Homo sapiens: one gene and its partner. The protein of the gene in region 1 interacts with the protein of each later gene in a biochemical or structural test. Each region holds a gene or a part of one and is shown on either strand. Other genes may lie near its edges.

Region 1 (8,768 bases):
TGAGGATGCGCACGCAGTGACACAGCCTCAGGAGGTCCTGACAACATGTGCCCAAGGTGGTCAGAGCACAGCTTGGTTTTATGCGTTTTAGGGACATATAAGACATCAATCAATATATGTAAAATGAACACTGGTTGGGTTCGGAAAGGCGGGACAACTTGAAGCGGGAAGGGGGCTTCCAGGTCACGGGTAGGTGGGAGACAAATGGTTGCATTCTTTTGAGTTTCTGATTTACCTTTCCTAAGGAGGCAGTCAGATACACATTTATCTCAATGAGCAGAGGGATGACTTTGAATAGAATGGGAGGCAAGTTTGTCTTAAGTAGTTCCTAGCTTGAATTTTCCTTTTAACTTAGTGATTTGGGGGCCCAAGATATTTTCCTTTACATTTGCCCCCTTTTCTTTTTTTTAAAAAAAATTTTTTTTTGGAGAAAGCATTTTAGAAGAAAAATGAGTCTTTGGTCCCAGATTTCATCTGATCGCTCATGCTAGGATGGTTTATTCCTAGACAGGTAAGTCCCAAGTTATTAGGAAAGCTAATTTTTAGAAGGCTGTGAACTCCCATGTCTTGTGAAGAGAAAATAGGGGGAGGAAGGGTGAAAAACAACAAACAAAAGAACAATCCTGGAAAATATACATAGGCCACGTTATTCTGAAGTCCATACATCAGTAGGCAGGTATGAAAGTGGCTTATGCGTGTAAATAGGTTGCTGTTATTTTCTTCTGAAGTTTAAGTTGTCTAGCTTCAGTTTGCAGGGCTTTACAAAAGCACAGCTGTTTTCAGTGACTCCTAATTAGGAAAAAAAAGGAAAAGAAAAGAAAAAAATTAAAAATATTATTTTGGAGACTTGTAGCCAGGAAAAATTAGAATTCAGCCTAAACTGTAGAAAATAATAAAAATTGAAAAAATTAGGCAAGACTAGTATCTAACAACAAGTGGACTGTAAGTTTTGAAACAATTTTTCTCTCTCCAGTTTTCCATTTTTACTAAAGACAAATCATGGTAGGACTGATTTGCTTTATTATATTTGACCAGATTATTTATATAAAGTGTAGCAAGAATAATTATTTTTCACATAGGCTTTTTAAAATTGGCTTTGAAGGAACTTTGTTCCATAGAAGGAATCTCAGATAAGATTCTTTTTAAAGCCAAGCTCAGCCATGGATTTGTACCATCAAATACCTATGAGTAGGGTGAATTTCCTCTTTTTGATGTTCCATGATAAACCAGGGGCTCCTGGACCTGTCAGAAAATGACATTCTTTACTTAGCACATATCAGAAACCCTGTACAGGGACTTTGTAAAGTGTGAGGCCAGTTTTCCCAAGGGCTTTTATTGGCTCCATAAGTCAGGTTTGATTACTTAAAGGAAAGTACACCTTTCCACTCAAAGCCTTGGTAAAATAATCAGTTTCTCCAACTGTGTCCTGTTACAAATGAAAACAGATTCTTACTGCACTTATGCAAATAACTGTATTGGCACAAGTTAAGAATACTCACAAATAGTTTACAAATTCTGGAGAAATCAGGTAGAGAGAAACAAATATGCTCCAAATTTTGTTGATTGGAGTATACTAAATTGTTAAAAGCTGTCAATAGCTCAAAAGAAAAGTTTCAAGGCTCTGAAAAACAAAGCAAAAGATCAGCAATGTTTAAGCAAAAAGTCAAAAAGATTAGTTCAGTCCCCTTAGTTAATTCCTATTCTGCTTGATATTCATGAGCATTTTAGCTCTCCATGAGTTCTGAAAGTTTTTCCTCTATTCTCATGTAACAATCTCCAAAGTTAATGGAGACCTGCATTCAAGAGGAAACAACAGGTGCTGGAGAGGATGTGGAGGAATAGTTACGTTTTTACACTGTTGGTGGGAGTGTAAACTAGGTCAACCATTGTGGAAGACACTGTGGTGATTCCTCAAGGATCTAGAACTAGAAATACCATTTGACCCAGCCATCCCATTACTGGGTATATACCCAAAGGATTATAAATCATGCTACGATAAAGACACATGCACATGTATGTTTATTGCAGCACTATTCACCATAGCAAAGACTTGGAACCAACCCAAATGTCCATCAATGATAGACTGGATTAAGAAAAAATGACACATATACACGATGGAATACTATGCAGCCATAAAAAAGGATGAGTTCATGTCCTTTGTAGGGACATGGATGAAGCTGGAAACCATCATTCTCAGCAAACTATCACAAGGACAGAAAACCAAATACCGCATGTTCTCACTCATAGTTGGGAATTGAACAATGAGAACATTTGGACACAGGGCAGGGAACATCACACACTGGGGCCTGTCGTGGGGTGGGGGGATGGGGGAGGGATAGCACTAGGAGAAATACCTAATGTAAATGACGAATTAATGGGTGCAGCAAACCAACATGGCACATGTATACATATGTAACAAAACTGCACGTTGTGCACATGTACCCTAGAACTTAAAGTATAATTTAAAAAAACAAATTTAACAAAGAAAACATTATCAAGAATAAATAATGAATCTCAAAAAACAACAACAGCAACAACAAAAAAAAACACTTTCTAAAGAGGACCAAAACAACACAACAATTGTGCGTGGATGACTAAAAGTTTTAGGGCAGCCATAGGCAAAGACACAATTGACAAGGAAATTTGATACCTCTCCTCTGTAGCACACAATAATTTTAACGTAACAATTATGATTATTACTGATAATGTACACTAGGTCATATCAGAATTACAGGAATTTCCCATAATTTTGGAACACATACCAATAACATATTTATACAAATACATCTCAAAGAAAGCCAAACACTGTTGCATATTTGACAATGCTTCCTGTGTAATTTTTGTACCAAATAAGCCAAATTATGCCATTTTTGGACTTCAGGGAATCTAATATCTTAAAGGACTAATTAGGTCAGAAAAAGACATAATTTATAATTTGATTTTGGAAAGTTTGTCAAATATCAAATGTTTAAAACACCTGATATCACAAAAATAGGATCACAGGTCATTATAAAATAAATCATTCATTTAACCAAAGTGATAACTCAAGGATTTCATAAAAAGGTGAAAACCTTCATTCTTTGAGAGAGGGGACTTAACTTTCCAAACAATAAGCCCTAATAAAAACAGCATGAAGCTAATTAAATTTGTTTTCAAAATTTTATAAACAATCTATAAAATTTTAAACTTGACCATAAGATATAATTTCTAACTGGGCGTGGTGGCTCACGCCTATAATCCCAGCACTTTGGGAGGCCGAGGTGGGCAGATCAGGAGGTCAGGAGATCAAGACCATCCTGGCCAACATGGTGAAACCCCTTCTCTACTAAAAATACAAAAATTAGCTGAGTGTGGTGGCACGCGTCTGTAGTCCCAGCTACTCGGGAGGCTGAGGCAGGAGAATCGCTTGAAGCCAGGAGGCGGAGGTTACAGTGAGCTGAGATTGAGCCACTGCAGTTCCAGCCTGGGTGACAGGGCGAGACTCCATCTCAAAAAAAGAAAAGAAAACAAAAGATATAACTTCCATAAGCCTTTATAACCTTTATTAAGGAGTCAGTTAATGTGTCAAGAAAACCTTGTTAATCTGATTACAGGGGCCCATAAGCTGATCTTGCATCATTGTGCCTTTGACGTTAATCATTAATTTATAGAGAAACTGAACTTATTTTATCTTTCAAATTTGGACCTTACAGTCTTACCTGCCCACCTCTTCTTCGATAGTCTCTGGGCCTTGAGGAGTTGAATGCCTTTAATTTCTGGCCGTGTATCTCAGGAATGCAGTTTATTTTGATTGGCGTCTTCTACGGGGCCTGAAGATGACAGCTTCAATTGCTGTCAGTGTTTAAGATTTAGTAGGACTTGGTGTCCTTTTTAGACCCAGGAGTCAAAGCCCTGTAACCTAAGGTCACAAGGACTTTAAAAGCACATACAGGAAAATACCCAGTTGTAATCATGTTAATTAAAAAATCTTTTTTTAATCTCAGTTTTTTCCTAAACATAGGAATTATTTCAACAAAATGTAAACTCTGTTAGGTCAGTTACCAAAAAGCAAAAGAAAAGACCTTCTGCAATGCACAGAACATGATGTTGGAAGAAAACACTTCCTTTAGACCTTTAAGACAGTGTGCCTTTTTAAAGGGGAGAGAAAGCTGAAAAAAAATGGCAAGATGCAATAAAAATTGAACTTTCAGTTTTAAAAAAAAATTAAATTCTCTTATAATTTTTTTTTTGAAATAGAGTCTCGCACTGTTGCCCAGTTTGGAGTGCACTGGTGCAATCTTGGCTCACTGCAGCCTCTGCCTCTTGGGTTCAAGCAATTCTTGTGCCTCAGCCTGCCAAGTAGCTGGGACTACAGGCACATGCCACCAGGCCTGGCTAATTTTTGTATTTTTGTTAGAGACGAGGTGTCACTACGTTGGCCGGGCTAGTCTACAACTCCTGACCTCAAGTGATCCACCTGTCTTGGCCTCCCAAAGTGCTGGGATTACAGGCAGAAGCCACCATTCGTAGGCAAATTCTCTTATAATTTATTAAGAGTAAGTTAACCCCTTAAGAAAAGTTTATTTTTCTAACCAATAATTTCGTGTATATGTGTCTTTTTTAACATGAAGCCCAGTCTCTAGAAAGAGCATTATAATTTCCTTTTAATTGTAAACATGATCATATACAATTTTTTTAAAACAAATCCTCTTATTGTGACATACACAGACCATTCATGACATGCTTGAACTTTTATCTTAGGACTAAATTTACCATACAGTATTCTTTCTCATGTAAAATTATTTCTAAGCTTTCTTACCACATACAAAAAAAATTTGTTTTATAACTTCCTTTACAACATCTCTCTTATTTCCTGATTCCTTTACCTTGTTGTATACATAACCTTTAAATAAGTTTTGTGGGGTTTTTTTTGTTTGTTTGTTTTTTATCTGAGACAGAGTCTTGCTCTGGCACCCAGGCTGGAAGGCAATGGCCCGATCTTGGCTCACTGCAACCTCCACCTCCTGGGTTCAAGTGATTCTCCTGCCTCAGCCTCTCGAGTCGCTGGGATTACACGTGCACCACAATGCCCAACTAATTTTATATTTATAGTAGGGACAGGGTTTCACCATGTTGATCAAGCTGGTCTTGAACTGACTTCAAGTGATCTGCATGCCACGGCCTCCCAAAGTGCTGGGATTGCAGGCATGAGCCGCTGCCCCTGGCCTAAATAAGCTTTGAATTAGACAAAACTTGTTCACCGTTTTTGGGGGGTTTTGTTTGTTTTTTTGTTTTTTTGAGATAGAGTCTCATTCTGTCACCCAGGCTGGAGTGCAGTTGCGTGATTTCAGCTGAGTGCAGCGTCTGCTTCCTGTGTTCAAGTTATTCTCCTGCGTCAGCCTCCTGAGTAGGTGGGATTACAGGCGCCTGCCACCACGCCTGGCTAATTTTCATTTTTTGTATATTTAGTAGAGACAGGGTTTCACCATGTTGGCCAAGCTAGTCTCAAACTCCTGACCTCAAGTGATCTGACTGCCTTGGCCTCCCAAAATGCTGGGATTACAGGCATGAGTCAGTGCACCCAGCCCTAGAGTTCAACTGTTTTTTTATTTTCTTATTATACTTTAAGTTCTAGGGTACATGTGTGCAACGTGCAGGTTTGTTACATATGTATACATGTGCCATGTTGGTGTGCTGCACCCATTAACTCATCATTTACATTAGGTATATCTCCTAATGCTATCCCTCCCCCCTCCCCCCACCCCACGACAGGCCCCGGTGTGTGATGTTCCCCACCCTGTGTCCAAGTGTTCTCATTGTTCAGTTCCCATCTATGAGTGAGAACATGTGGTGTTTGGTTTTCTTTCCTTGAAATAGTTTGCTGAGAATGATGGTTTCCAGCTTCATCCGTGTCCCTACAAAGGACATGAACTCATCCTTTTTTATGGCTGCATAGTATTCCATGGTATATATGTGCCACATTTTCTTATTCCAGTCTATCATTCATGGACATTTGTGTTGGTTCCAAGTCTTTGCTATGGTGAATAGTGCTGCAGTAAACATACATGTGCATGTGTCTTTACAGCAGCATGATTTATAATCCTTTGGGTATATACCCAGTAATGGGATGGCTGGGTCAAATGGTATTTCTAGGTGTAGATCCTTGAGGAATTGCCAGTGTCTTCTACAATGGTTGAACTAGTTTACAGTCCCACCAACAGTGTAAAAGTGTTCCTATTTCTCCACATCCTGTCCAGCACCTGTTGTTTCCTGACTTTTTAATGATCACCATTCTAACTGGTGTGAGATGGTATCTCATTGTGGTTTTGATTTGCATTTCTCTGATGGCCAGTGATGAAGAGCATTTTTTCATGTATCTGTTGGCTGCATAAATGTCTTATTTTGAGAAGTGTCTGTTCATATCCTTTGCCCACTTTTCGATGGGGTTGTTTGATTTTTTCTTGTAAATTTGTTTAAGTTCTTTGTAGATTCTGGATATTAGCCCTTTGTCAGTTGGGTAGATTGTAAAAATTTTCTCCCATCCTGTAGGTTGCCTGTTCACTCTAATGGTAGTTTCTTTTGCTGTGCAGAAGCTCTTTAGTTTAATTAGCTCCCATTTGTCAATTTTGGCTTTTGTTGCCATTGCTTTTGGTGTTTTAGACATGAAGTCTTTGCCTATGCCCTGAATGGTATTGTCTAGGTTTTCTTCTAGGGTTTTTATGGTTTTAAGCCTAACATTTAAGTCTTTAATCCATCTTGAATTAAGTTTTGTGTAAGGTGTAAGGAAGGGATCCAGTTTCAGCTTTCTACATATGGCTAACCTGTTTTCCCAGCACCATTTATTAAAAGGGAATCCTTTCCCCATTTCTTGTTTTTGTCAGGTTTGTCAAAGATGAGATGGTTGTAGATGTGTGGTATTATTTCTGAGGGCTCTGTTCTGTTCCATTGGTCTATATCTCTGTTTTGGTACCAGTACCATGCTGTTTTGGTTACTGTAGCCTTGTAGTATAGTTTGAAGTCAGGTAGCGTGATGCCTCTCCAGCTTTGTTCTTTTGGCTTAGGATTGTCTTGGCAATGCAGGCTCTTTTTTGGTTCCATATGAACTTTAAAGTAGTTTTTTCCAATTCTGTGAAGAAAGTCATTGGTAGCTTGATGGGGATGGCATTGAATCTATAAATTACCTTGGGCAGTATGGCCATTTTCACGATATTGATTCTTCCTATCCATGAGCATGGAATGTTCTTCCATTTGTTTGTGTCCTCTTTTATTTCGTTGAGCAGTGGTTTGTAGTTCTCCTTGAAGAGGTCCTTCACATCCCTTGTAAGTTGGATTCCTAGGTATTTTATTCTCTTTGAAGCAATTGTGAATGGGAGTTCACTCATGATTTGGCTGTTTGTCTGTTATTGGTGTATAGGAATGCTTGTGATTTTTGCACATTGATTTTGTATCCTGAGACTTTGCTGAAGTTGCTTATCCGCTTAAGGAGATTTTGGGCTGAGATGATGGGGTTTTCTAAATATACAATCATGTCATCTACAAACAGGGACAATTATAGAAGGACTGGGGGTCCTTCTATAAGCATTTCTAATAGAGGGTCCTGCCTTGCCGCTCTTTTGGCTTCAATATCCGCTTGGCAGTTCCTTTCTGTTTCCCTTTCCTTTCTGGTGACTCTGGCAGTGTAAGACTGCCACCTCTTTAGGTTTCTGTACAGCCAATAGTAATCTCCTAATGGCTTCCTGATGTTTGATAGGTGTTCCCTCGGAAGTTAGGAATTCCCCTCTCTCCATATTGCTGCATGGGCATGGAGGACTAGGTAAGCGTACTTAGAGTCTGTATATATATTTACCCTTTTCCCTTCTCCTAATTCTAGTGCCCGAGTGAGGGCTATTAGTTCTGCATGCTGAGCACTAGTTCCTGGAGTGAGGGGATTAGTTTCAAGTATTCCATTATCACTGACCACTGCATACCCCGCTTTTCAAAGTCCTTTTTCTGCAAAGGAACTTCCATCAGTATACAAGTTGAGGTTGGGATCAGTCAAGGGAACCCCTAAAAGGTCCCCTTGAGCAGCATTAGGTTTGAGCAATCACATGTTGGCATTTATGTTCTATCTTTTCTTCATTGTCTGGAAGAAATGTGGCTGTGTTAAGAGTTGCACAAGTGCGCAGTCACACCACTGGCCCATCAAGTAATAGAGCCTGATATTTAAGTAAACGGTTGTCTGACAGCCACAAGTCTCCTTTAGCAGTGAGTATGCCATTCACATCATGAGATGTTCACACAGTAAGATCTCTTCCCTGTATTACTTTAACTGCTTCAGATACTAAGACTGCTACTGTTGCCACTACCCGTAAACAATGAGGCCAACCCTTTGCCAGTACATCAATTTCCTTACTCAGGTATGCCACAGGTTGCAAGCTGGTCCCTCGGACCTGTATAAGGACTCCTAGAGCTATTCCTGTTTCTTTTGCGACATATAAAGAAAAGTCTTGCCCCATTGGCAAGCTTACCACTGGGGCTTGGGTTAGGGCCTTCTTTAGGGCCTGAAAAGCCACTTCTGCTTCAGGTGTCCATCTTACTAAATGGGTATTGGCTTTCTGAGTTTCCTTAGTGTGTATAATGGCCTGACTATTTCGCTGTACCTGGGAATCCATATTCGGCAGAAGCTTGTTATGCCAAGGAACCCTCTTAGTTGCTTTAGGGTTTTGGGATGAGGATAAGCCAGTATAGGCTGGATACGTTCCTCACTGAGGGCCCTTGTGCCTTTGGATAATTTTAGCCCTAAGTTTTTA
Region 2 (7,000 bases), on another chromosome or scaffold:
TGTGACCAAATGTCTGAGGATTTCTCTCCAAACACCAAGTAAGCAGTCAGTTTTGCGGTGGACGTCAGCTAGGTGTCCTCCTGTTCAGTGTTGACACTACCTACCTGGAAATAGTGTCAGATCCCGTAGGTTGAGGTCCCAGTCCCACAAGATTAACCCCCTCTTCCCTGCCACTTGTAATGCCAGTTGAAAGCCCCAGGTTGTTTTACCTGTGCTTCTGACCAACTGGCTGTAAATAGGGGATCCCATGACCCCCTCCTTGGATTCAATTAATTTACTAGAGAGGCTGACAGAACTCAGGGAAACACTTGCTTTCATTTACTGGTTTATTATAAAGGATACTACAAAGTATACAGATGCATAAGATGAGATATGGGGGAAGGATCTTGGAACTTCCATGCCCTCCTTGGATGCATCACCCTCCAGGAACCTCTATGAGTTCAGCTATCCAGAAACTCTCTGAACCCCCTCCTCTTGGGTCCTTTATGGAAACTTCATTGGCTAGGCATGATTGAAGCATGGACAACAGTGTTGAAATATGACTGGACAGAAAGGGTCTGATCTCATATTAATAGACTGATTGGGGAAACCCAAGAAGGCCTGTCCAGATTCTTCTGGCCTCTCCATGCGACATTCCTTCTTCCAGGGTATGAGGCAGGACCCTCCCTGGAATGAAGTTCTTGCAACTCTTGGCTCAACTCCTGAGGCCTAAAGTGCACCAACGTACAAAAGACTGTAACGAGGGCTATGAGAGTTATGAACCAGGAACAGTGGATAGAAACCTGTGTGCGCGCGTGTGTGTATTGGATGTACAGTACTGGAGTATGTATGTGGGTGTGTGTGTATACTCTATGTCCAATACACACACGCCGCCACACATATGTATACACACATATGTAAATTATATATTTATATACACACATATACATATGTATGTATATGTATACATTTTGTATATATAGCTCATAATATCACAAGTACTGTATTCAGAAAGGAGACCAGAGACAATTTGTTTATATACTTCATTGAGCCTTTATTGAGGATCTGCAATGGGTCAGATTTCCATCTATGGAAATGGATCTGAGATAGAGTTGCTCCCCTGAAGATTCTAGTGGCTTAGTTATGAAGTTATGGGCGTCGGTTGGACTGATGGTCCTTTAAGGACCCGATTGTGCATAGCATGCTTGCCACTGTGTGGTACGAGCTGGTTGTGACGACCCTTCACTTTGCTTCCCACACTCAGCATAGAGGTGGCCAACCTAAGGCCAAAGCTATGTGGCTTCTTGGGGCTCTTGAGCAAGATTTGAAACAAGAATAGAGAAAAAGAAAATTGTGACCATGATTTAAATGATGCTGTAACAAAGTTACTGTTACATGTTTTTAAAAGACTGAAAGAAGAGTAGAGGCTCTTGAAAGAGATTTCAATGTAGCAAATTGTATTTTGAAATAAAAATAATAGAATTGTGTCCTTTTTTTTAGTAGACACAAATTATTCTGAATCCTGTTCTTGGACAAGTGGGCAATTTTGATGTACAGCTTTTGATAATTTTTTTTTGTTTTCTATTTTTCTCTTAAATCACAAAATTCTGGACTGGAAAGTTTCTTCTAAGCCATGCTGTCCAACACCATTATCTTTTTCCTCTACTTCTTCTTTCTTTGCCTACTCTATTTCCTTCCTCTCTTATTTCTTCTCCATGTTGTAATGATAATAACTTTATTTGATGCTGCAAATTATAAATGCTGTCATATAAGTTTTCACTTATCCTTCTAAAGAGATGTGGAAGATAGGCAAAAATGGGCTTACTTTACAAATGGAAATAAGATCCAGAGTTGTTGAGCGAGCCACATGAGACCTCATAACTAATAACTAATGTGAACAGTCTACTATGATAAACTCAGTACCAAATACACAACTTGCTTCCATACAAGAACTACATTCTGTTTCCGGAGGCTAAAGCAAAACTAGACCAGGGCTGCCATGGGTATTGTGGGAAAAGCATGGATTTTGGAGTCAGATAGTCCTGTGTGAGAGTCTCAGCTCTGTTCCTCTATCATTCATTTAAGCATTTGGGAGATATTCATCAACTGCCTCCCATGTGCTACTGTCTTCATAGACCCTGGGGATAAGTGGTGAAGAAGGAACATGGTGCTGCTGCTTCAATGAATGAGCTTCTTGAACATGGATCATATTCATTGATGAGAATAAGCCCATAGTATATGATGAAATGTCCAGTGGAAAATGCTATAAAGTACTTTAAAGAAAATGTTATAAAGAAAATAAAGCGAGATAAAAGGATAGAGAGATGGCATGGCAGGGTAGCCAGGGGTGATGTGATGTGTTTCAGATAAGGGAGTCCAGAAAGGCCCTCTGTGGAAGTAACATTTGGCCGATTTGAATAATGCAAATATCTGGAGGAGAAATGAATCTGAGAGTGTTTCTCAAAGTTCAAGCACATTGGAATCACTCGAGACAGCTTTACAAACCATACCAAGCCCTACCTTAGGGATTCAGGTTTAACTGGTCTAGGGTGGGGCTTTGGTGGTCCTTTTGAGAGGCTCCCCCTTCACATAGGGGTTAATTATTTTGTCCTCTCTACTTTCGTGTATGTTTGAAATCTTTCATAATAAAACCGTTTTATACACGTGTGTGTGTGTGTATTATGAATGTGTGTGTGTGTGTGTGTGTGTGTGTATATATGTATATATATATTTAGGCTTCTCAGGAGATTCATATGAACATGCTGGCTTTTAAGCCACTGAGATAGAGGGAACACTGGGTTCTAGTCCCTCAGCCAGGCTGAGCTTGCCTCATTTTCCAGGAGGAGCCAGGAGGCCCACAGGACTGGAGTGGATATGAGATTGAAGAGTGGCCAGGGGCCAGGCCCTACTTACTGGCCAGGTGATATTGATCAGTTACTTTTTCATTTTGAAATCTCAGTTTCCTCATTTGCAAAACCTGGATAATACTTACCTTTCAGGGTTGTTGAGAGGATTGAACGAAATGATAACATGGCAGAATTGTTCTCAAACTTGAGTGTGTATTGGAATCTCAAATTTGAGCATGCATTGAGTGTGCATTTGGATATATATATGTACACACACAAAAGCATGCATTGAGTGTGCATTAGAATATATATACACACACATGCTTGTGTGTGTATATATGTATATATATACACATATATACATGTATACATATATACACATATATGTGTATATACACAAGCATGTGTGTGTGTGCATATATATTCTAATGCACACTCAATGCATGCTCAAGTTTGAGATTCTAATACACACTGAAGTTTGAGAACCATTCTGCCATGTATCATTTCATTCAATCGTCTCAACAACTCTGAAAGGTAAGTAGTATCCTGGTTTTGCAAATGAGGAAACTGAGACACACACACACACACACACACACACACGTATGTATATATATATGTGGAAAATACTATATGTGTATATATATACACACACATATAGTATATATGAATATATACACATGTATATGTGTGTGTGTATATATACTAATCACACTCATCAATGAATGTGATCCACGTTCTCATCAATGAATAAGTTCTATGTTCATGTATGTATGTGTATAGATAGATAGATAGATACTCTTCTTTTTTATGCATTATATTTCTAACCAGCTGCTGAATGATGCTGAGGCTACTGGTCCGGGAATCACACTTTGAGAACCACTGGTGGATGGGGAGCATCTAGCATGGTGCTGAGGCAGTTCTGACATTGAGAGCTAAAGTCAGAGGCAGGAGAATACCCTAGAGATGAGATGCAATGGAAATTGAAAGATGAAAGTGAGACCAAAAAATGTCTTAAGACAAAAGCAACATCCATTTTAGGGCTCCCTCTCCCTGATGTTTAAGTTAGTGGTCACTTGGGAGTAAATGTGGTCCCCTGAGCAGTGCTGAGAAGTTTCCCTGAGAGAAGGGCCATGGGTCACTTAGAAAAGCTCTTCCAGTGATCTGCAAGTCAGGCCCTTGCAGGAACTTCAGGCTTCGTTACCATGCCATTAACCACTGCCCATAGAGTGTGGAACCAGTGCGCAGAGGCTCACAGCTTCAATTTAGAGAAAATAAATGTTGGACTGAAAAGCTCTGGCTGATGGCTTGACTTATTAAGTTTTTAAATCTAAATATCTGGCACTGTGAGAAGGGGCAGCCTAAATTGTGTTTTTGTCCTTGAATAGGGCTTCTAATCAAAGAGTTTGGTGAGGAGCAGACAGTACTTTCCCAGGGACTGTTCTTCCCTGTGCTCTTGACCTACTAAAATTCTCAAAGACCAGCATGACTGGAAAAACTGCATTTGGGCAGGCTGGGCTGAGAGAAAGTTTGGCCTTTAGAGAGAAACACAGATCCATCTCACAGGAGAAGAGATTTCACTCTATAGATGTGAAATCCCTACTCCTATTTCCCCAGATGGGATAATAAGCCAATTAGCATCATGAGCCCCATTACTTCAGGATTGTAAAACTGTTCTGCTCCTTTCTGTCATCCTTCTGATTACCAGCGTGATTGATAGAATCATTCTTGAGCCCTGGTCACTTATGGAGCTGAAATTTACTTGTGGGCAGAGCCACCATGTCTCCAGGACACCCGTCTGTGGCATTCTACTTCCCACCATAGACCAAGGCCAGCTCCTTCTTTTCTGTCTCCCTTGAGTGTGCAACTGGGTAGATAAGTTAGAGTCTCAGTTTTTCCCTCTCCTCGCATCTGTCTTAGGATAAGCCTGTGGGTATGAGGCCATGCGAGAATGCTGGTCTCAAGGTTCAGATTTGGTGGAAGGAGGGGAGAGGAAGGAGTAAGATGCCTCCCTTCTGTCTCCAGGTATAAGCCAAGCTTTATGCTCTCACTCTGTCTTTCACCAGATTGCTGTATGGCGATTACAGGAGGTGGCTATTAATAAAACAAAACACTGATATTTCATTCAGCCTTGGGAATCCCTTGAGAAGAGAGATGACTTGTAGGGAAGGGTATAGGCATTCTGAATGCTTGGACATAATACCATACCAACATCTGGAGTGAACCAGCAGGTGAATCTGGGGCAATGCTGAATAGAGGTTCTTGTCTCTATACATGTGCCTTTTCTGGACATTTTGCAGAACATCTTTAAGCCTCAGTTTTCCTGTTTGAAAAGTGGGTTTACTGATGGTCCATACCTCGTATCATTATTTGGATTAAGTGGGATAATCCATGTAAAAGCACTTGGATCAGTGCCTGCTGTTCAGTTAATACTCAGTAAACATCAGCTATGAGTATTGTTTTACCTAGCTGTGTGCAACCCTGAAGGATTAGACCTATCACATTTTCTTAGAGAGGTCTTAAATATTAAATCAGATTTAGCCAACTATCTGTCTTTGTAGAGTCTTGGCACATACTTCCCAGCAGCAGCTGCAGCTTTGACTTCTGCCATTAGAACTGCTTTACTTTGATGAAAAATACTTATTTTTCATACCATCTGAGTCTATTACTTGCCCCAAAGTGGATGGACTTGGACAGCTTTTAGATAAATAGATTGGGGGTGTTTCCTGTCCCTCTGAGGAATGGAAATGAGCGCTTCTGTGAGAGGCAAAGAGAACTCAATGCACACTCATGAGTGCATTCACAGGATTTGAGAATATGTGATTTATCAAGACCACCTTGTAGTTAGTGGTGTAAATTCAGATAAACACCATAAATTGGAGGTAATGAGTGGTGCCTTTCTCCAGGCCTGGATGGGTGATGGGACATCTACAGGAGATTACTCCTGTGTGGGGATTGCAAGTGTCATTTGCAAACATTACGACATTTTGACACATCTCATATGTAAATGCATAGCATCTCTTTCAGAGTTTATTCTGTTTGGGACAAATAAGTGTACTGTTGACAATAATATTTCTCAGAATACTTTAACCTTGTAAATATAATTGAAAACAAATTGCACAGATGTTTTTTTTCACGCATTTGAATCACCATTGCTGAGAAATATACCAGTTTAATGTTTCGACAAGTTAGCCAGCACGATAGCATCTCAAAAATTAGTGATAACAGTAACAGATTTCCTGGCCATGCATTCCCCTGTCTCCAGCCTCCATTTCTTCACTTATAAAGTGGAGTTAATGATGCTTACATCACAGGATTATTGCAAGTATTCATGATTAAGCCCAGCCTGGCTTAGAGCAGGTTCACTGTAGATATTGGTTTTCCTGAAAATGTACATTACAGTTCTGAATCCCAGTTCTTTAATCTGGAAAAAGGAGATTATCGTACCTACCTTGTTAATGAAATAGTAACCTACCTTATTAATGGGAATGATATCTAATATTTACTAAGTACTTATTATGTGCACCACATAATAGAACTTTAGATGGATTATCTAGTTTAATCCTCATAATCATTCCATGAAGTAGAAACTTATTAGACCCATTTTGCAGGTTAGTAGTGGAAGAGGTTAGATTCTACCCAGACGGTGAATCTGAGCCCATGCTATTACCACCACACTGTCTTTTCTGACTAGCTTTTCTGATTTATGAGACAGCACTTTGGAATAGTATATGGAAAAACTTGGCACAGTACCTCATCTGTTGAAAGTGATAATATTCATCTTTCTCTATACCTGCCTTTCTCCTGGTTCCTTTCTGAACCCTTCAGAAGCAGCATCTAAAAAAAAATACTTCTTCTGGCCCTTTGGAGGCCTGTTGGGCAAACACACCAGGCTTAGGGACTCAGGGGAGCATCTCAGTGGGAGGTCCGTTCTGGGTGGCCTGGAGCAGGAGTACTGGCTTAGGGAAGGAAAGGGTTCCCATCCAGGCTTTGCCACCAACAGCGTCATCAGCTGACTCTTGGCAAGTCACTCACATTACACAGCTAAGCTAAGACCCCTTCCTGCTCTAAGATCCTGTGTGATGGGTCTTCTTTATCTTTATCATTAGTTTGTGGTCTGGAACAATGATTTGGGAATGACATGCAGAGAAAATACAGCTAAATAAGGAGACATTGTA

What was found. Proteins that work in one complex are often made in the same cells at the same time.
Region 2: the proteins of ACOT13 (region 1) and PCTP form a complex in vitro, tested with the Homo sapiens proteins (one study listed by BioGRID).

Annotation. Positions count from the first base shown.
Region 1 is NC_000006.12:24,669,150-24,677,917, forward strand, and holds part of ACOT13 (acyl-coenzyme A thioesterase 13), read left to right. Parts: exon of another isoform or gene 1-789; intron 790-1,499; exon of another isoform or gene 1,500-8,768. UniProt on the Homo sapiens protein: Catalyzes the hydrolysis of acyl-CoAs into free fatty acids and coenzyme A (CoASH), regulating their respective intracellular levels. Has acyl-CoA thioesterase activity towards medium (C12) and long-chain (C18) fatty acyl-CoA substrates.
Region 2 is NC_000017.11:55,754,051-55,761,050, forward strand, and holds part of PCTP (phosphatidylcholine transfer protein), read left to right. Parts: exon of another isoform or gene 1-38; intron 39-7,000. UniProt on the Homo sapiens protein: Catalyzes the transfer of phosphatidylcholine between membranes. Binds a single lipid molecule.